Homo sapiens: one gene and its partners. The protein of the gene in region 1 interacts with the protein of each later gene in a pairwise test. Each region holds a gene or a part of one and is shown in the gene's direction. Other genes may lie near its edges.

Region 1 (3,500 bases):
CGCTTGAACCCCGGAGGTGGAGGTTGCTCTGAGCCGAGGTCACGCCATTGCACTCCAGCCTGGGCAACAAGAGCGAAACTCCATCTCAACAGAAGGAAGAAAAAAAAAAGAAGAAAAGGTAAATGGCTGATTATTGATTTTGCTTTACAGACAGGAATTTGCTGTTGCTGGCTATGAATTCTGCATTTCAACTCTAGAGGAAAAAATTGAAAGAGAAAAGGAATTAGCAGAAGACATTATGTCAGGTAGGAAACCCATTATCTGGGCATTGCCTTTTCTCCACAAAAGGCTTTACTTTACACTTTTGAGAAATGGAAAGAGATCTAAATTGGGAAGAGGGAAAGTTACCTATTTTGCAAAATAAGTGTCTGTCTTTAAGGTATCAGCAGAAGTTTTGGAATAAGATGTTTTATTTAAAATATTTGACTGCTGTTTTGGTGGTGGTTTTTTTTTTAACCCCCTTGGTAACATGGTCATAATTTATTTGTTAACTTTTAGTTACATATAACTTAAGGAAAATTGGGGAGCAGAAGGAGAAGGTGTTTCTCGTATCTCTTAGTTCAGCTACCAATCAAAATGCTTATTACGTTTTAGCCCTAGATATACAGCAAATTAAGAAAGAAGAGAAAAAAAGCTCATGTTTTTACAATCCATCCTCACTCATTCTGGAGGCTAGGAATAGAACTGGATGAGCAGGAAGCTCTCTAGCTCTCCACCATTTTGGGTTTCTTAATTTGGGTTGAAGTATTGAGAATTTTCAGATTTGACATTTATTCAATACCTACTCTATACCAAGAGCTACCGAGATGGTAGGGATACAGCAGTCAACTCTTCTGTACCTAGTGGTCTTCTAACTCTCTCTTGAACATAGAGTAGTCCCCCGTTATCCATGGGGAATATGTTCCAAGACCCCCAGCAGATGCCTGAAACGACTTCTAATACACTGTGTTTTTTTCTTATATATATGTACCTATGATAAAGTTTAATTTATAAGTTAGGCACAGTAAGAGATTAACAACAATAACTTTTAATAGAACAATTATAACTATATACTGTTAACAGTGTCACAGACAGGAGATTCATTCTTATTGTAGATCTTATCAACCTCAGCATACAGTTTTTTGTTTTTTGTTTTTTGTTTTCTTACTAAGTTGAGAACTTTCACCTTTTCATTAAAAGGAAGCACTTTATGACTTCTCTTTGTCATATTCAAATTGCCAGTATCACCACTCTCACACTTTGGGGCCATTATGTAAAATATGGATTGCTTGAGCACAAGTACTGCAACATTGTGGGTTGATCTGATAACTGAGACTGCTGCTAAGTGACTGAGGCCAGCTGCCGTATACAACTTGGGTACACTGGACAAAGATGATTCATGTCCTGGGCAGGATGGAGTGTGACAGTGTAAGATTTCTTCATGCCACCCAGAATGGCATGCAATTTAAAAACTTACGGATTATTTCTTGAATTTTTCATTTAATATTTTTCGGACTCTGGTTGACTGCAGATAACTGAAACCCCAGAAAATGAAACTGTGGAGTAGGAGGGATCACTGTACACCAATTTTTTTGTTTTCATCACTCCACTGAAGCTACCTTTATCAAAGTCACCAAATCCAATGGTTACTTCTCAATCCTTAACTTACTCATCAGCAGCTTTAACTTAGGGGATCACTGTCTCCTACTGAAAATACTTTCACTTGGCTTCTGGGATGCCTCACTGGTCTCTCTAGTGAGGTGAATAGACTTCCCTACCTCTTAATGTTGGCACGCCTTAGGGCTGTTTTCAGCCCTATTCTCTTTTCTCTCTGCCCCAACACCTAGGAGATATCTTTTAGTTCCATAGTTTTAAATATTAGATTTATACCTTCAGCCCCAACTTGCCCCCAAATGGCAGACTTATAATTATGATTGCCCACCCGACATCTTGACTTGAAGTCTAATGGTCATCTCATACTTAACATGTCCAAAATAGGTCTCAGTTTTGCCGCTCACAACTTGTTTCGTCACCAGTCAGCCCCAGATTTGTAAATGGCACACTACTCATTTAGTTGCTTTGGCCAAGAACCTAAGAATTGTCCATGATTTCTTCCTCATTCCTCATATCTAATCCATCAGCAAGTTATACTGGATCAGCCATCAAAATATATCCATACTGACCATGTCTCATCCCATTACCCTACTGCTTTGGTCCAGGCCATCACTGTTTCAAGACCTCAGTACCTTTGTATCACCTTTAGAATAAATTTAGAATCCCTGCATGGACCTGTAAGGCGCTTATGACCTGGGCCCACCCACCTCTTCCATGCCATCTGCTGCTCTCCCCTTGCTCGTTCCAGTCTCACCACACTGGTCTTATTCTGGCACATTCCAAGCTTAGTGCCACCTCAAGGCCTCTTTGCTTGATATTCCCCCTACCTAGACTGTTCTCTCTTACCTTTCTCTGGCCAACTCCCGTACTTCACTCAGGTCTCTGCTCAAATAGCACTTCCTCAGAGTGCTCCCTTCACTAAAACTATCATCTCTTCCCACCTTACTATTGCTCTACTCCTCTTTCCTTTACTTTTCTTCATCACACTTAAAAGTAGAGGTGTGTGTGTTGTGTGCTTGTGTTTCTCCACTAAAAGTATGTTTTTGTTTAAAAATTTTTAGTCTTTGTCTTCCATATCAAAGAAGGATAGAGACTTCATCCATTATACTCAGTGCTAAATCCTCGGTGCCTAGAACAGTGCCTGGCACATAATAGAGGCTCAATAATTACTGAATGAAAGAACAAAAGACCCAAGAAAGACCAGCAAATAAATCCAGTTTCAGTGCAGTGTGGAAGTGCTTTGAGGAAATCCACAAGAGGTGTAAAAACAAGTCTAGCTGTCAAGTAAGTCACTTCTGAACTATTTACACCTTTGCTGTCTTTCATTTATAGTGTTGACTATGGTTTCTTAGGAGTGTAAAGCTATATTTTCTGATTCAAAAAATAATACCAGTAAACACTGAAGAAAGTTTAGAAAAGCACTAAGTAAAAATCATCTGTAATCATACTATTAAGAAAGAGCTACTGTTTTATTTATTACTACGGCTTTTCGGGTTACATTTTAAGAAATAAATTTGGGATGATACTGTATATCCTACTTTGTAACCTGAGTTTTAACAATTTAGTAACATATTATGAAAACACTTTTTTTTTCCAGGCAAAGGAATTCTTGTTAGATAGAGCAAGCTAATTTCTATTATAAATATTATTTTTACATTTTACTAGTTGCACAGTATAGAAAATGTGTTACATGATTCTTCATCTTATTTTTTCTAGAAAAGGAATTCCTACCTATTCAGTTTTGCACAAAGCAAATCCATTATCAAATTTACGTGCTTTTTATTGACACAACTATCTCTATTCTAGGATAACATTACTTAATTACATAAAATTACATTACTTAATTACATAAAACCTTGCTCTAGGATAATTATTTTGTTACCTATGTTGTAGACATATATGTACTT
Region 2 (2,988 bases), on another chromosome or scaffold:
ACCAGCTTCACCCAGGGTTGGTACAGAGGATGCTGGCCCAGGGAGTACATCCACAGCATCTTCCAAGTTTGCTCCAAACTGGTGAGTTTCCAGCCTGACTTGGGTGTCGTCAGTTTGTGGGCCTAGGGGACAATTGTTGGCACTGATGAAGTGCTATAATGTGGGAGATTTCCATCCCTAGAAAGATGTTACTAGATTCTCCCATCTAACTGGCAGGCAGTGGGCCCAATCCAGTCAATCCCCTAGTCCTTTAAAAGATTAGGAACCTAGCTTGAAGATTCTTTTTTTTTTTTTTTTTTTTTTTCCTTTTTGTAGAGACAGAAGTCTCACTCTGTCTGCCTGGCTGGAGTGCAGTGGCGCAATCTCAGCTCACTGCAACCTCTGCCTCCTGAGTTCAAGCAATTCTCCTGCCTCAGCCTCCCGAGTAGCTGGGACTACAGGTGCACGCCGCCACACCCGGATAATTTATTTTGTATTTTAGTAGAGACAGGATTTCACCGTGTTGCCCAGGCTGGTCTCAAACTCCTAAGTTTAGGCAGTCCACCCACATCGGCCTCCCAAAGTGTCAGGATTACAGGCGTGAGCCAGAGAATTCTTCATTCTTTTTTGAGTCTCGCTCTGTCGCCCAGGCTAGAGTGCAGTGGCGCGATCTCTGCTCACTGCAACCTCTGCCTCTCCCGAGTTCTAGGTCCCTGCCTCAGCCTTCCGAGTAGCTGGGATTACAGGCGCCTGCCACTACACCTGGCTAATTTTTGTATTTTTAGTAGAGACAGGGTTTCACCATGTTGGCCATACTGGTCTCGAACTCCTGACCTCGTGGTCCGCCTGCTTTGGCCTCCCAAAGTGCTGGGGATTACAGGCGTGAGCCACTGCGCAGAGCCCTTCATTCTTAACAAACTTCCAGATCAGCAAAACTGTACAGTGAAGCTGGAAAACTTCCAGGTAACATTAAGACTACTCAGCTGCTTGCTTTTTCTGCTCAACAGGTGTGCTTCCTCCTGGGATGGACTTGAGTCATTTACAGGGAATATCTGGCCCCATCCTGGGTCAGCCCTTTTACCCTTTACCTGCTGCTAGTCACCCTCTCTTAAACCCTCGTCCTGGAACACCTCTGCATCTGGCAATGGTGCAACAGCAGCTACAGCGCTCAGGTAGGTTCAGGAATGTGACAGGTGAGTTTGGGACGGACTTAGGGAGTCTTGAAGCTTTGAGGACTAGTTTCCAGTGGAGATGAATTAACACTTTCATTCTTTAACTTGTTCTAAGTTTGGGACAAAGTGTAACCAGATAATAAGATGAAGTAAATTGACCTCTATGCAATTTGGGATTACTGTTCCTGCAAAGTCAGTGGGAAAAGCCAAGTGTTTTCTGGCTTTTTCCTTTGCCTGTTAGGAGAGAGGGCTGAGAATCCAACAGAGGTTCAGCATCCGGCCTGCCCAGGGTATATACCCCCTCACCAGTTCATGTTGCTGCTTCTGTGATGTGGTTACTTAGCCATGAGAAGTAGCGGTCATGTCATCCAGGGTGGGTTTTCAATACTGGTAGCTTCTGAATAGCTCAGCTTTCCATGGTACTGTTTTCTGGCATTGTTGGTATTTTGCAAAGGAGTTTCTAAAGAAGCCCTAGAAAAAATCCTCTAGTAAAGACTTTTCTTTGGATAGGGTTTGAATGAAGCAGGGTCTAATAAACTTTCCTTCTCATGCTGTGAATGATAACCCTTCTTATCTCCACAGTTCTGCATCCTCCAGGCTCTGGTTCCCATGCAGCAGCTGTCAGCGTTCAGACAACCCCTCAGAACGTGCCCAGCCGGTCAGGCCTGCCCCACATGCACTCCCAGCTGGAGCATCGCCCCAGCCAGAGGAGCAGCTCCCCTGTGGGCCTTGCCAAATGGTTTGGCTCAGATGTGCTACAGCAACCCCTGCCCTCCATGCCCGCCAAAGTTATCAGTGTAGATGAATTGGAATACCGACAGTGAGCAGGGCAGGCAGACTCAACTAAGCCCGGACCTGTGGTGGCACACTGGGCAGGACCCTGCTTCATCTCGGGTTGGTTTATGGGCTTTTACTTTGGAGCACTCTGTGTGAAGCTGTTTGGTGGAACCCATGCATCTGGTGTGGTCCGCATTATGATGGAAGGATCTTAACCAGTCGAGTGGAGTGTACATTGTCTGAATACAGGATGCACAATGTTGTCAATCCTGGAAATGGTCTTTCTTTTTTGTAAGATATGTGAATGAAGTGTTGGTGTCCTCACCAAGAGGTGGCACCTAAGGGTTCTGAGGAAATAAATGTATAGACCCTTATGTACAGACCTGTGTATAAACAACTTTTGTATATACATATAGGATAGCTTTTTTGAACTATACAGCTGTACATAAAAGTAGCTGATATTAGTTAGGCCTGTGTCAACAGTTTGGATTTTTTTCACTTGTACATTTGGGATTTTCTTTTGGTTGATTAAAATTGCATATGCTAAGTGTGTGAATGAAGTAACTGACATTGTTGTGTTTATTTCCTCTCTGAAACCCTTCCTAATTTTGTTTGGAGACAGGGTCTCACTCTGTGTCACCCAGGCTGGAGTACAGTGGTGCAATCGTGGCTCACTGCAGCTTCAACCTCCTGGGCTCAAGCGATCCTCTCACCTCAGCCTCCCAAGTAGATGGAACTACAGGCACATGCCACTAACTTTTTTCTTATTTTTTGTAGAGGCAGGGTCTTACCATGTAGCCCAAGCTAGTCTTCCTAATTTCTAACCAGCCAAGCTATGCTCAGTATGTTCCTTTAAGGAAGTGATCTGAAGTTTAAGTAAGTTAAGTTTTTCTTGAAAACCCATGGAAATTGGGCACTGTGGCTCACGCCTGTAATCTCAGCACTCTGGGAGGCAGAGGCAGGCGAATCACAAGGTCAAGAGATCAAGACCATCCTAGCCAAGATGGTGAAATCCCATCTCTACTAAAAATACAAAACTAGCTGGGCATGGTGGCCCACA
Region 3 (3,500 bases), on another chromosome or scaffold:
TCATGATCTGCGCTTCACTGCCAGCTTGCCCTACACGATGGTCCCAACATTCCTAGGGGCCTTGGGGGACAGAGGGATTTTTGGAGGTCCCTCCTATTGTCTGCCCACCAGTGCTTATGTCTGGCATAGCAAAAATAGAACAAGACACCCCTTTGGAGCCCAGGCTTCATTTAAAGGCAAAGACATTTGAAGAAGGCTCAGACATGGGGTAGAGTGATGGTGGTGGGGAGGAGTGGGACAAAGGGGGACCCTGGGGACAGAGGCTTCAAACCCAAACCAATCCTTTGCCTGATTTCCCTAGAGTTACCTCACACATGGCCCTGCATTTGCCCAGAAAATTAAGAACCAATCAGCAGGCTGTCCCAAGGGGCAAGAGGCACTGCCTGCTTTAATGAGTGTGCCCCCTCCCACCCCCAGGCTTTCTCTGGCTGCCTTTGCTGCCTAACTAGTCTGGGTAGGAGAGGTGCCACTCACTACAGAGACTTGTTCCCAGTGCCTTTTGCATGTGTGGGACCCGGTCCAGCAATGGCAGGACACCTGTTGAACATCACCCAACCCCATGGCAGCTGGGCCAGGTTGGGAATTTGCTGGCAGCTGGCACAGAGGTGCCCAGGTGCAGCAGTGAGAGAACAGGAGCAGGCTGCTGTGGTAAGGAGGGGTGGGGATTGCCCGGGCAGAGCCATACCTGGAGGGGCACCAGTCAGCAGCGTGAGCTCAGTCTTCACACAGACCCCTGCCCTGTTCCCTTTGAGCGTCAGTCCCCTCATCTCTACACTTGAGGGGGTGGGATTGGACTTGGTAATTTTAGGGCCTGCCCTCTCTGACATCTTGGGGGGCTGTGATTTCTCACCAACTGTCACTGTGCAAAAGCACTGTTTGACCTGGGTTTGACCCCAGCTCTGTAACTTACTGGCTGCATGACCTTTGGTAAGCTGCTCCTTTCTCCAGACTCATTGATTCCAATCTGTTAGGAGAACTCAAAGGATAATCTTTGCAAAGTGTCCAGGCCCAGGGTCCAAGGTAAATGGGTTCCACTCTTAACAGAGCTGTACCTCCCCTAGTGCCAGTGTCCCCTCTGAGGCCAGCCTCACCACTGCCCTTTTCACATCTGGCTCCAAGTAACAGAAACCCCAACTTGGATCGGCTTAAATACTAAGGATATTTATTGTCACACACCACATCAACTCACGACATAGAATGCTGCCAGAATTGGTGGATGCTCAGGCTCAGAAGCATCCTCGAGGTCTCAGGATCTTTCCAACACCCCGAATTACCATCTTCAGCTGGCTAACGGCTCATGGGGGCACTTCATCCAAATAGAATGAAAGACCAGCAGATAAGAGGCAGCCTCTCTTTTTTTTTTTGCGACCAAGTCTCTGTCCCCCAGGCTGGAGTGCAGTGGCGCAATCCTGGCTCACACTGCAACCTCTGCCTCCTGGGTTCAAGCAATTCTCCTGCCTCAGCCTCCCGAGTATCTGGGATTACAGGCGAGCGCCACCATGCCCAGCTAATTTTGTATATTTAGTAGAGATAGGGTTCAACCATGTTAACCAGGCTGATCTTGAACTCCCGACCTCTGGCGATACGCCCACCTTGGCCTCCCAAAGTGCTGGAATTACAGGCCTGAGGCACCGCACCCAGCAGCACCCTCTCTTCTTGTAGGTGGTTTTAAAGAGCAACTGGAAACCAACCTTACCCAGCCATCCCTCAGCAGACCTCCTTCCTGTCTGATTAGCCAGGATTGGGTTACATGCACTTCCCTGAGCCAATCACTAAGGAGGGGTGTGGCTCTGCCTTGCTGGTATAAATGTGGAAGGTTATGGAGGCGGAGCCACCCGAACCCAAGGGCCATCTGCTGGTGATGAGGCAAGGAGGGGCATGGTGGTGGGCTAGGTGGCCCTCAGTGGAGCCTGGTGATGATGGCAAAGGCTGAACTGGTGAGTTAAGGGGTAGATGGCCTGTCGGACTTCACCTGGTCCAGCCTGCTGGAACCAACATAGGGTGGGCCGTGTAAGTTACTCCTACCCCGGCACCTTGGAAGGGGCCCATTGCCCAACAGGCTGCTCCTGTTGTTCTGGTCTCCTACAGAGCTGGAGTGGAGCTCCGGGAAGCCATGTGTGCCCACCACCATCCCCTCCTCTCTCAGCCCCACAGCTGGCCTGTCCCCAAGCTCTCCTGGGGCCCCTTCCATCCCCACAGACCCTGCCCTAGTGCTAGCCTCCCCTCAGGCCCCTGCCATCCATTCTCTGAGGAGCAGCCAGGGCATCCCCTGCCTAGCCCTTCCCCTGGGCCCCCTGTTACTATCACGACAAGGCAAATCCCACTCTCAGCCAGGTCCACAGGCCCTGTGCCCTCCAGCCTCCTGGCTTATGGCTCCAGCTCATACAGGCATTCTGCAGCCCCACTGGACAGCTTGCTGTTCTCCACACCCACACTGCCCCTTCCCACCTCCAGCCTCCACCTCTGCTGCACTCGCAGTCTGGAATGGCCTTCCTCTTCCTTACCTACTGCCCTTGTCCTTCAGGTCCTCCCTGAGGAATGGGGTCAGAAGTCATGGCTTTCTCCTCGCACACCCCAGCTCCCACAACCACAGCTTGCTTAGGACTCTACATGTTTGTGTGTGTGTGTCTGTCTGTCTGTCTGTCTGTCTGTCCCCTATCCTCCTGGATGATGGTGGGCTACAGGGTCGGGGGCAGAGTCTGGCTCTACAGCACCCCACAGGCATCTGGAATGGAGAAGCCCCCCAGAGTCAACATTTGCTGAGTTCAGTGAAGTTGAACTTACATCTTAATAGCAAAACATCCATTGTCTCCTTTAACCTTACAACAGGCTTTCAAAGTGAGGAGTTTGAGGCATATCCCCATGGGATGATGGGAAAAGTAGGTCCCAAAGAGGAGAAGGGACTTGAAGGCCACACAGCAAGGTTGAGGCAGACCCAGACCCAGAGCCAAGGGGTCCTAGATCCCTAGAGACCCCAGCCCAGCATCTGCTCCCAGCAGCTACTCCTCCAGATGGCGGCCACTATGCCTGGGCAGAGCAGGCAGAGGTGGATGTGGGTGGGCCCAGGGGAAATAAGGCGGTGGGCGTGGAGGGGCCATGGAATGAAGGCTCTGTCCCCAGGGGAAGCAGGTCTGCCTCCATGGCTGGGGGTTAATGGCTTTTCTGAAGATCACAGCTGAGGGTTAATGACATTCCATAATTCCACTACCGCTGTGGCCCTTCCATTAGCATCTGCAGGCGATGCCTGCCTCTCCCCGCCCCCATCCTGCACACACATCAGCCACAGTACCCTCACCAGGGCTCTGGCGTCAGACTGCAGGTCTTCTAACTTTGAGTTCCCACCACTCCTGCCTGCACATGCACAAGACAGGCTGACCCTCCCTCCCCAGTCCTAGGTCTGAAGTGATCTTTCCTAAGTGACTTGCCCTGGGAAACTACTCAGGGAAAGGGCTGTTCCTTATTGGGCCGGCAGCCACTCACCACCTCTGGCTTCATAGGCT
Region 4 (3,500 bases), on another chromosome or scaffold:
GCGTAAATATGGCATTAAATACAGAGTTCCTACTCAGTAGAGATGGAACTTCACTATTTGGTTGTATAAGGCCTTTAGATTTTTAAATCAAATGCCAAATAATTCTTGTTATTAATCTCTAATGGCAAGATAATTGTACCATCATAAGTATGTTATTCTCAGGCTCAAGGCAAAATTATTCCTGCAATGGATCTCTCCTTTGGTGACCAAGGTATTTGTCATTCCAAGTACTACATAAAAACAGTCCCAACAGAAACGATCTGCCTATCACTTAAAATTTGTGGGCTGTTTCCCATTAAGTTATATCAACATGCTGGTTTGCTACAGAAGCATACTTTGAAGTATGCATTGGTTCACTTAAAGGTTGACCCATTTAAAGCCAAAGGAAGCCGGGCACAGTGGCTCACACCTGTAATCTCAGCACTGTGGGAGGCCGAGGCAGAAGGATGGTGTGAGCCCAGAAGTTTGAGAACAGCCTGGGTGACATGATGAGACCTTGTCTCTACAAAAAAATTAAAAAATTAGCCATATGTGGTGGTGTGCATCTGTTGTCCTAGCTACTCAAGAGGCTGAGGCAGGAGGACCACTTAAGCCCAGGAGGTCAAGGTTGCGGTGAGCCATGTTCATGCCACTGCACTCCAGCATGGGCAACAGAGTAGTGAGACCCTGCCTCAGAATAAAAGCCAAAGGAGTCTTGATCCTATTGCCACAAAGTGATTAAACCACTTCGTTCAAGTGGATAACACTTTAACATTAATAGCATCCTTTTAGTAAATTACTACTCTTATGCACTAGTTGTTCACCTGAAAGATTAAGTGTACCTGCAGAGATAGGGGGCTTTGTCTAGTCTAAATTTTAAATATTTGGTATACTGGGTTTTTAATAGAAGATAGTGTCCCAGCCTTCAAAATAAAAATAAACATTTTATCTTTAAAGCTGCTCAAGAAGCCAGAAAAAGGAGATGAAAAAGAATTGGACAAAAGAGAAAAAGCCAAGAAATTGGACAAAGAGAATCTCAGTGATGAAAGAGCCAGTGGGCAAAGTTGTACATTGCCCAAGCGTTCTGATAGCGAACTTAAAGATGAAAAACCAAAGAGGTCAGTAGTCAAGGACTCTTTGTTATGTTTGATTTATACATGCTAGTTTTGCTGCTATGTCCTGGACATGTACCTGAATTAAGATAAGCTGTTTTATGCAGGGCAGGGGGATGAGGAGGAACAGTTTCAGAATATTCTTGTATCTTAATCTGGGTGAATGGTTTTGGGGTTTTGTTCCTTCTTAAAACACTAGTATTTTTCACTCTGCTCTAAAAGTGCAACCTCATTGCAGGGGCCAAATCAGAATCACAGTGTTCCTGCATTTGTGATTACAAGATCTTTCAGGGTTCTGTCTCAGATTTGTTTTTCATGCAGACCTGAAGATGAGAGCGGCAGAGACTATAGGGAGAGGGAACGGGAATATGAACGAGATCAGGAGCGCATACTTCGAGAAAGAGAGAGGCTGAAGCGGCAAGAAGAAGAGCGCCGTAGGCAGAAGGAGCGCTATGAGAAAGAGAAGACTTTTAAGAGAAAAGAAGAAGAAATGAAAAAAGAGAAAGACACACTTCGGGATAAAGGAAAGAAGGCTGAAAGTACAGAATCAATAGGCAGCTCAGAAAAAACTGAAAAGAAAGAAGAAGTGGTCAAGAGAGATCGAATAAGAAACAAGGTGCTGCTTGTCATTAAACTTGTTTATGAGGGTTTTTTTCCCTTTTCCTGCAAGTGTAAAGAAAGTGTAAAGGGCACTGTTATTATAGAATTTTTAAAGGGGAACTTTAATCATCTGCAACTTTTTTTTTTTTTTTTTTTTGAGACAGAGTCTGACTATGTTGCCCAGGCTGGAGTGCAGTGGCACAATCTCGGCTCACTGCAAGCTCCGCCTCCTGGGTTCACGCCATTCTTCTGCTTCAGCCTCCCAAGTAGCTGGGACTACAGGCGCCCACCACCACGCCTGACTTATTTTTTTGTATTTTTAGTAGAGACAGGGTTTCACCGTGTTAGCCAGGATGGTCTTGATCTCCTGACCTCGTGATCCACCTGCCTCAGCCTCCCAAAGTGCTGGGATTACAGGCGTGAGCCACCACGCCTGACCAACTTTTATTTCAGTCTTGGCTGGGCTTTTATTAACTTACTATAGAAATTGTAAACATACACAAAAGTAGAATAGAGAATAGTATGATGGGCCAGGTGCAGTGGCTCACACCTGTAATCCTAGCACTTTGGGAGGCTGAGGTGGGTGGATTGCTAGAGCCTAGGAGTTCTAGACCAGCCTGGCCAACATGGTGAAACCCCGTCTCTACTAAAAATACAAAAAATCGGCTGGATGTGGTGGCGCACACCTGTAATCTCAGCTACTCGGGAGGCTGAGGCAGAAGAATCACTTGAACCTGGGAGGTGGAGGTTGAGGTGAGCCGAGATCACGCCATTGTATTCTAGCCTGGGCAACAGAGCGAGACTCAGTCTCAAAAAAAAAACTGGCCGGGCGCGGTGGCTCACGCCTGTAATCCCAGCACTTTGGGAGGCCAAGACGGGTGGATCACGAGGTCAGGAGATCAAGACCATCCTGGCTAACATGGTGAAACCCCATCTCTACTAAAAATACAAAAAATTAGCCAGGCGTGGTGGCGGGCGCCTGTAGTCCCAGCTACTCGGGAGGCTGAGGCAGGAAAATGGCGTGAACCTGGGAGGCGGAGCTTGCAGTGAGCCGAGATCGCGTCACTGCACTCCAGCACGGGCAACAGAGCGAGACTCTGTCTCAAAAAAAAAAAAAAAATCGAATAGTATGATGAACTCCATGTACTGTACCCATCACCCAGCAGTTCATAGCCAACCTTCTTTCTATTCTACTTCATCCCTACCCCTACTAGATTATTTTCAAACAAACCCTGCACATAATTTCTTCCTTAAATACTTCAGTATATGAGATAAATACTCTATTAATATTACCCTAGTAGCATTTTCACACCAAAAAAAACTAACAATAATTCCTTAACGTCCTGTCTATTCAGTGTTCATATGTTCCCAATTGCTTCATTAATGTCTTTTTAAAATTAATTAATTATTTATTTTTTGCGATGGAGTCTCGCTCTGTCATCTAGGCTGGAGTGCAGTGGCATGATCTCAGCTCACCACAACCTCCACCTCCCGGGTTCAAGTGATTCTCCTGCCTCAGCCTCCCGAATAGCTGAGACTACAGCCTCAAGCCACCATGCCCGGCTAATTTTTGTATTTTTAGTAGAGACAGGGTTTCACCATGTTGGCCAGGCTGGTCTCGAACTCCTGACCTCAGGTGATCCTCCCGCCTCAGCCTCCCAAAGTGCTGGGATTACAGGCATGAGCCACCGTGCCCAGCCTAATGTCTTTTTTTTAATAGGACCTAAACAAATTCCACAAATTATGCTTCCTTGAAATGTCTTCTTCAGTTCTCTTTTGTTTTTAGTTTATTTTTTGAGACAGAGTCTT
Region 5 (4,227 bases), on another chromosome or scaffold:
CTTGGAGAACAGTCCAGGAAGAAAATCCCAGCTTCCTGCCTAGAGATCTGTCCACCCTCTTGCTAGCCCACTAGCTTGCAGTTGGCTCAGCCGTGGACCTGGGATGTTATATATTCATTAATTAATCAATTCAGCTCCGATGCCAGCCTCTGCTTGCCCACTCACTAATCCAGCTGAGGGACAGTTGGGACCACCCTAATACTGGGCGTGGGCCAGGCATTTCCAACAGCCAAGAAAAGCACCATGTGCTATGAAGGGAAAACACACTAGCTGAGCTCCCCTCTAAACACCACACATAAGTACAAATCTGTTGATAAGGGAAGAGGCCATGGAGATGGACTAGGGAGAGTCTCAGATACCTAACTGGTGGATACACACACTGGCATCCTCCCAGACCAGTGCCCTGGTAATTATCTAGGAGGTGACCTGTAGCTCAACTGAGTCATGCTTCCTCCTCTCTCAGTCCCCCGAGGCAGGCTCTGGACACCTGCTCATCTCATGGCTGCTCAGCCAGAAAAATGTCCTCCTACATCGTGTAGATGATCCCCTTGCTGTTGTCTCAGAGCCATTTTCCAGCTCTGGGTCCACAACAATGGGGGTATGGTAGAAACCTAGGGGGTCAATGAATCAGTCAAAAAACACTGGCTGAGCACCCCAGCGATAGAGTGATTACTGCCTATAGGCAGGGAAAAAGAGTGTGGGGTGGTGGGGTCTGGAGGTAACATTATCCGTGAATTTCATTTAGGGATTGTTACAAAGAGTGGACGCCAACCAAAACGCATATTTTCTCCAAAGACATGTGCAGTAATATTTTAGCAGCACTTTTGTGGTGGCCAAAAACTCAATGCAACGCCCATCAGCAAATACTGTTCAGGAGCAGAAATGGACGCTAGGGCCACTCACAGCAACGGGGATGCTCTCTCAATCATGACACTGGGCAAAGGCAGCCAGGCACAAAGGAGAACATCTGGATGGTTCCACTCACACAAAGTTCAAATCACAGCAAAGCTAATCTTTGCAGAGGGAAGTCAATGAGAGCCAGGGAGGACGGTGACCCTGGGGGCCACTGGGGGAGGCTGGCAATGCTTTGTTTTCTAATCTCCAGGTGACGGTTACAGGCGAGTCCTCTCTTTGACATACTCAATTAAGCTCTGTACACTTGAGCGTCTGTCCACTCGTAGGTGTGCATACTTCCACTGCGGATTTAAACTTTCAAAGAAGTCTAGGGTGTTAGGTCTGGAGGTTTCCCCAAGGTTTTCCACAGATGAGCAAATGGGCCTAGAGGTGGACAAAGGGCCCAGACGTGAGCAAAGGATGGCAGCAAGCCCGGACCCAAGCGACGCGGCGAAAGCACAGCGACCCCACCCTCGCCAGGTGCAGAGCCATTTCCGCCTCCGAGTCCTGCGTTGCCTGGCAACCGGTCTCCCAGGAGACGCGAGACGCTGAGCCCAGGGCCAGAGCTTGCGGGGCGCACAGAGCCCCCAGGCCTCATGGCGCAGAAACCTCTCAGCACCGCGGCGGCTGAACGCATGAACCTTGTGGGTCAGGATGAGATCTGGTAACGCCTGGGATCGGGCAACGCGGTGGGCTCCTGTTCTCACCTGAAGTGTCCACATCTGGGGTCTCAGTTTCCCCACCAAGTCCGGGAAGTGATCGACCACTAAACTCGAGGGGCAGAGGGGCGTGCGCTGAGGATGGTCAGGGGCCTTGAGGAAAGGGGTCAATGTTAGGGACATGAGAGCGACAGGAGGGCCTTTCTCCGTCTCCTTCTCCCTCTCCTGTTGGGCCCACCACGAAGACGTGGGAGATTGGCTTTCAACAATCAGCAGAGATTGGCTTGTTGAAATCCAACTAACATGTTCATGTTTTTTTTTTTTCTTCAAATCTCAGCATCCAACCAGAACGTGTTCATGTTTTTAAGACTGATGATTTTTGTTTGTTTGTTTGTTTGTTTTTTGAGATGGAGTCCTGCTCTATCCTCCAGGCTGGAGTGCAGTGGCGCGATCTCGGCTCACTGCAACCTCTGCCTCCTGGGTTCAAGCAATTCTCTGCCTCAGCTTCCCGAGTAGCTGGGATTACAGGCGCCCACCACCACACCCGGCTAATGTTTTTGTATTTTTAGTAGAGACGGGCTTTCACCATCTTGGCCAGGCAGGTCTTGAATTCCTGACGTCGTGATCCACCCGCCTCGGCCTCCCAAAGTGTTAGGATTGCATGCGTGAGTCACCGCGCCTGGCCAAATTTTTTTTTAAAAAAAGAAAGCAAAAATCCTAATATTTGTTAAATTTGAATGAAGTACATGAAAATCCCTTGATTCTCCTGGGTTTTTAAGTAATATATTTTAACTTTAAAGATACATCCATTTTCTAAAAGATGTATGTCTAGCAGACATTTGTCGTGGATATTTTAATTGGCATGCTATCTGCTACGTATTATTGCATCTCTTTGAAAGTTTAACTCATATGGGAATTTACAGATTTAGATATAAGTAAGTTGTAGTAACAATAAAACATACTTGTTTACCTTCTAAACTTCAGTTATCCTATTTACCCTCTCTATAATTTTTACCATTTCCTTGTAAAACCTCTATTAGTCACTTCATATGTGTCTTTAAATTGTTTTCACTTGATGATTTTATGGAAAACTTCATATCACTCTCATAAATAGAAAACCTTTATCATTTGGCATAAAATACACAACTATTTTTTACTAAATCTTTATCCAAGTGTCCCAATAGGAGATGCTGCCACAGCAGGATCTGTTCCCTCTGTCTGAAATGCCCCTTCCTCTCTTCTTCACCATACAAACTTCTGCTCATCCTTCAAGACCCAAATCTAAGTGACCCCTCCTCTTTGAATAGGGCCCTTGGCTACCTAACACTTAAATTGTAACTGGTCCAAATTGGGTTCAGCCGTTAAGTGTAAACTGCGTGACAAATTACGATGATTTATTTAAAAAAAAAAAAGATTATTTAAGTGACTGTCAGCCGGATGCAGTGGCTCACACCTGTAATCCCAGCACTTTGGGAGGCCGAGGCCAGGAGTTGAAGACCAGCCTGGCCAACATGGTGAAACCCCATCTCTACTAAAAATACAAAATTATCCAGGCATGGTGGCACACACCTGTAATCCCAGCTACTCAGGAGGCTGAGGCAGGAGAATTGCTTGAACCCAGGAGGCGGAGGTTGCAGTGAACCTAGATTGTGCCATCGCACTCCATCCTAGGCAAAAAAAAGGCGAAACTCCATCAAAAAAAAAAAAAAAAAAAAAAAGACTGTCACCTGTTTATTCTTATGTTCTTTTTAATGTAGTTACTAGAACATTTCAAATTGTGTATGCAGCTCATGTTTGTGGCTTATGTTACATCTTGATTGAAATAGACTCTGCCTTAGATGCTCACTGCCCAGGGCAAAGAGTTGACCAGGGTCTCCGAAACTGTGGGGTAGGGATATGCTGATATTGATTCCAAGATAGAAGAAACTAGAAAACTCAAAACGATTGAATGTTTAATTTGATGTTTGCAAAATGTGGCACGTGGGCTCGTCTACTGCAATGCCACTCAGCTCATGGGTAGTTAGATATAAACAATATTAGCATGGAGCAAAAGCAAGGTCGGATTAGGGTGGGGCAAGTGAGGCACTTGCGCTGCAATATTTAGGAAATGCTCCACGTCAAGGTCATGCAGACGCTGTCTCTGCACTTGCAGGAAGCAGGGAGTGAGTGCCTCCTCCACTTTTGCACCTCCTCAAATTTTGAGTCATAAGGGCCTCCAAAATAAGAGATCTGGTACCTAGAAGGCTCCTCAGGCAGAATCGGCCCCCAGACTGGCCCTTACCCGGCATTCCCTCTCAGCCGTAACAGCCAACCAGCATCTCTCTTTCGTTAGCCACGTGTCTCCCTTGCTGGTGGGAGGTGCTCAGCATCAGAGGTTCTCACGCTGTCTGGCTCCTCACTCCGTCCCTGGTGCAGAACCACTGCCCAGTCAATGTTCGTGGAGAATGGAAATGTCCCCCACAGACCCCTTGAACCTTTTTCCGTGTTGCCCAGCACTCAGGAACTTTCTTTTTCAGGAAATACCGTCTGAAGGCTGAATCGGAAGCACGGCAGAACTGGCCCCAGAACTGGGGGTTTTTAACAACCCCTTTTGAGGAGGTAAATATAAATTGTATGAGCCCCAAGGTTACAGAATCAATCATTTCAAAGAATGAATGATTACAAAGTCTATCAC
Region 6 (3,500 bases), 4.5 Mb from region 1:
ACAAAACACCCCTCCCTTTTCTTGCAGAGAAGCCACGGATGAACAACATCCTGACATCAGCCACCGAGCCCTATGACCTCTCCTTCTCCCGCTCGTTCCAGAACTTGGCCCACCTGCCCCCATCCTACGAGTCTGCAGTAAAGACCAACCCCAGCAAGTATTCATCTCTGAAGAGGCTAAGTAAGTTGAATTTCCCCCAAGTTGGGGTCTGTCTCTGGGGCTCCAAGATATCTTCCTATGTCACACTCTCTTGCTCCATACCCCATAGGACAGCTGTCAAATCCCAAGAATAAAGAAGGAGTTGCAGGATGAGAGAAGAGAATAGACAAGCTCTTTGCTTTTGTTCCTTATGGACTGAGCCCATTCTTTCCATACATAGAAAGAAGACCATGGAATCCTCAGATTCACATCCCTATAGGAGACGGCCTTCCAATTCATGCACCAGTTTAACTGCGGGAGAAAGCCTTCTCCCAGTCCCGCACGCAACTGCCTTCTTCAAACCATGGGCCTTCCTTGCTGTATACCCTATACTGGATAGAGGCTAGCAATGGCCAGAACTTTCTCTGAGACCTCTCCCAGAGGCCCACAAACCAGCTCCTTCTCCAACCCAGCCAACAGTGTCTTGAGGACCTGAGATCCTTCACCTCCCATGCATACACCCCATTTCACCAGTTCAATCCAGTTTATCCAGTGATGCCAGCTCTGCCTCTTGAGTCTGGGGAGACTCTGGGCATCAATGGGTTAAAGATACAAAAATGTCAAAAAATTTCCCTAAAGGACAGCTCTTCCTCCCTGGCTTTCTGGCCTTGGACCTTCTCCTCCCATTTTCCCAGGAGTCTCTTTTGATGACCACCCAACTGCAGTTGGAGCCTCAAGGGCTGAGCATTTGCTTGAAAGCTTCAGGGTAACCTACCCTGACAGAAGTGCAGCCCAAGTCCACATCAGCCACCTCCATGGTGAAACGTGGAGTCTCTAGCTAGAGACGGGACTATCATAACCTGAGGAATCATCCCGAGGTGATGAAATTTGGCTCAGGAGGAAGGATACCCATCAACGACCCCGCTGCACCAACTGAAGAGCAGACAGAATTCCCACACTTTTGCAGAGATCTAGAAGGCCATGTGTAGGAGGCCTCATTTCTGAAATTTGGGGCAATGCAGGTTTGTGTGTAACCTGCAAGTTCAAGTAGGTTTGTAGCATGCAAGTCCAAGTAGGCTTGTAGCATGCAAGTTCCAGGCAAATTCAAGGGTACAGAGAGCAGTGTGAGCTTAGGAGGGCCTGCTGGATAGAGAGAAAGGTGGAGCATCTAAATGAGGCGCACATGTAAGATTACTCCAACCAGCTTGCGTTATGGGCACAGGTGGAGTGTGTGTAGGCTGATTATGTGGCTGTGTGGGGACTGGAGGCCCATGTATTGGCTTTCTATGCGTTGCCTGTTACTACAGAGAAGGTGTTACGATGTTCCTAAGTTACCAGTTAAACATTTTCACAAGTGTTTCCTAGTCTGAGCATCTTACTTTATTCTAGCCGGAGGCTGGCTCTGGACCTCATCAGGAAGCTTCAAGAGCTGCTATTTGGATGTTTTAGTAAGACAGATAGTCATTCTGTTTCAGGACCATGGTGTGGTAGATACGGCCCAGGACCAGGCGGAGTTCAGGGACTTGGGCTTGCTATCAACTCTGCCCTGAACACACTGGGGATTCTGAGGAAGTCCCTTAACATATCCCTACTCAAGGTGGTCTATGTACCAGAGGCTTTTAGCATTACCTGGGAGCTTGTTAGAGATGCAAACTCTTGGGCCCACCCCAGACCCACTGAATTAGAATCTGCATTTAACAAGCCCCCAGAGAATGGTTTGCACATTCAATGGGAAAATACACCCTTCACCCGTCTGTCCTAATCCATAACTAAAGGAGTTTGACTGTATTATCCCTTAAGGTTGACAGGTCTGTGATGGAGCAGGAGCGGGGCAGGGTTCTATCTGAGTCCTGGCTGCAGGGTCACCCCAGTTGCCTTCTCTCACTCTGTCTCTCCCCTGCAGCCGACAAGGAGGCTGACGAGTATTACATGAGACGGCGGCACCTGCCCGACCTGGCTGCCCGCGGCACCCTCCCCCTCAATGTCATCCAGATGTCCCAACAGAAGCCGTTGCCAAGGGAACGACCCCGCCGGCCCATCCGGGCCATGTCCCAGGACAGGGTCCTGTCCCCGGATCGGGGCCTGCCAGATGAGTTCAGCATGCCCTACGACCGCATCCTGTCCGACGAGCAGCTGCTCTCCACGGAGCGCCTGCACTCCCAGGACCCGCTGCTGTCCCCGGAGCGGACGGCCTTTCCCGAGCAGTCGCTGTCCAGGGCCATCTCGCACACGGACGTCTTTGTGTCCACACCCGTGCTGGACCGCTACCGCATGAGCAAGATGCACTCTCATCCCAGTGCCTCCAATAACTCATACGCCACCCTGGGCCAGAGCCAGACGGCAGCCAAGCGTCATGCCTTTGCCTCACGCAGACACAACACGGTGGAGCAGCTGCACTACATCCCGGGCCACCACACCTGCTACACAGCCAGCAAGACCGAAGTGACCGTGTGACCGGCGGGGCAGGGCCGGGGCTGCTGGGCGTGGCAGAGCAGAGCGGGGGCCGGGAGGGGCCAGGAGCAGAGCTTCTAGCCTTGCCACTCTCCCTTCCCTTGTCCCCTCTGTAGGAAGTGGGGGTGGGCCACCTTTGCCCAAAAAGCCATACCCCCGGGGACACAGCCCCGATGGCCTGGTCCAATACACTTAGACCCAGGACCAAGAGCAATCGCTCTTGCTCCTCCAGAAGAATCAGTGGGGAGTGAGGAGGGGGCTAGGCCCCATTCTCACCCCCGACCACCTTCACCAACTCCCTTTCCGTCCCGCGCCTCCTTCTCCCCATCCGGGGGACTCAGCTGCAGGTTCTGTCAGCAGAGAGACCCTTGCTTGACTGTGGTCTGAAGCTGCCTGGGTTTGAAGGGGCCAGCGGGTCCAATCAGTGGGCTGACCGGATAGGCTACTCGGTCTCATTCATTCATCTAGAACCGCATCACAGAAATCTCCTAGTGCCTAAAAACTGCCTGCTCGCTCTCTCAGAGCCAGGGAGCTGCTGTGTCCATAAGCACAATAATGATTCTTTTCTTGCCTGCTGGAACTCTCTGGTCCCCACTGAGTGACCCTTCCTTTGCTGACCCCTGAGGGCCCAACCCTGGCCCTGTGCCCCTCCCCTCAACTCCAGGACCAGGAGGGGTTCCCTTCCTTCAGCTGCCTCCCCATTGGTGGGAACTCCACCCCCTTCCAGCTGACTGCCCGCCCATAAGGACCCTGGGCCTGTCCTTTCAGCGGGCTGTGCTCCTTCCCTGGCCCTGAGGATTTCACCCTTGAGTTTTCTGGGGTTTTGGCTGTAGCCTTCGCAGAGGGGAGTAGCAATGGGGTGCTGGCCCTCCCAGACACCCGATCATCTCCGCACTCCCTCCAGGCCTCTA

The links.
Region 2: the proteins of TTC19 (region 1) and EIF4ENIF1 interact in binary tests that used the Homo sapiens proteins (3 or more experiments, as listed by UniProt).
Region 3: the proteins of TTC19 (region 1) and CCDC33 interact in a two-hybrid assay, tested with the Homo sapiens proteins (2 studies listed by BioGRID and IntAct).
Region 4: the proteins of TTC19 (region 1) and UPF3B interact in a two-hybrid assay, tested with the Homo sapiens proteins (one large-scale study listed by BioGRID and IntAct).
Region 5: the proteins of TTC19 (region 1) and CIMIP1 interact in binary tests that used the Homo sapiens proteins (3 or more experiments, as listed by UniProt).
Region 6: the proteins of TTC19 (region 1) and SHISA6 interact in binary tests that used the Homo sapiens proteins (3 or more experiments, as listed by UniProt).

The regions. Positions count from the first base shown.
Region 1 is NC_000017.11:16,006,324-16,009,823, forward strand, and holds part of TTC19 (tetratricopeptide repeat protein 19, mitochondrial isoform 1 precursor), read left to right. Parts: intron 1-150; coding exon 151-245; intron 246-2,654; coding exon of another isoform or gene 2,655-2,683; exon of another isoform or gene 2,684-2,741; intron 2,742-3,500. UniProt on the Homo sapiens protein: Required for the preservation of the structural and functional integrity of mitochondrial respiratory complex III by allowing the physiological turnover of the Rieske protein UQCRFS1.
Region 2 is NC_000022.11:31,438,867-31,441,854, reverse strand, and holds the end of EIF4ENIF1 (eukaryotic translation initiation factor 4E transporter), read left to right. Parts: coding exon 1-81; intron 82-986; coding exon 987-1,151; intron 1,152-1,733; coding exon 1,734-1,975; 3' UTR 1,976-2,488; downstream 2,489-2,988. UniProt on the Homo sapiens protein: EIF4E-binding protein that regulates translation and stability of mRNAs in processing bodies (P-bodies). Plays a key role in P-bodies to coordinate the storage of translationally inactive mRNAs in the cytoplasm and prevent their degradation.
Region 3 is NC_000015.10:74,274,326-74,277,825, forward strand, and holds part of CCDC33 (coiled-coil domain-containing protein 33), read left to right. Parts: intron 1-3,500.
Region 4 is NC_000023.11:119,835,964-119,839,463, reverse strand, and holds part of UPF3B (regulator of nonsense transcripts 3B), read left to right. Parts: intron 1-936; coding exon 937-1,097; intron 1,098-1,412; coding exon 1,413-1,707; intron 1,708-3,500. UniProt on the Homo sapiens protein: Involved in nonsense-mediated decay (NMD) of mRNAs containing premature stop codons by associating with the nuclear exon junction complex (EJC) and serving as link between the EJC core and NMD machinery.
Region 5 is NC_000020.11:58,149,475-58,153,701, forward strand, and holds the start of CIMIP1 (ciliary microtubule inner protein 1), read left to right. Parts: upstream 1-1,427; 5' UTR 1,428-1,490; coding exon 1,491-1,558; intron 1,559-4,069; coding exon 4,070-4,151; intron 4,152-4,227.
Region 6 is NC_000017.11:11,555,713-11,559,212, forward strand, and holds part of SHISA6 (protein shisa-6 isoform 1 precursor), read left to right. Parts: intron 1-27; coding exon 28-180; intron 181-2,041; coding exon 2,042-2,592; 3' UTR 2,593-3,500. UniProt on the Homo sapiens protein: Involved in maintenance of high-frequency synaptic transmission at hippocampal CA3-CA1 synapses.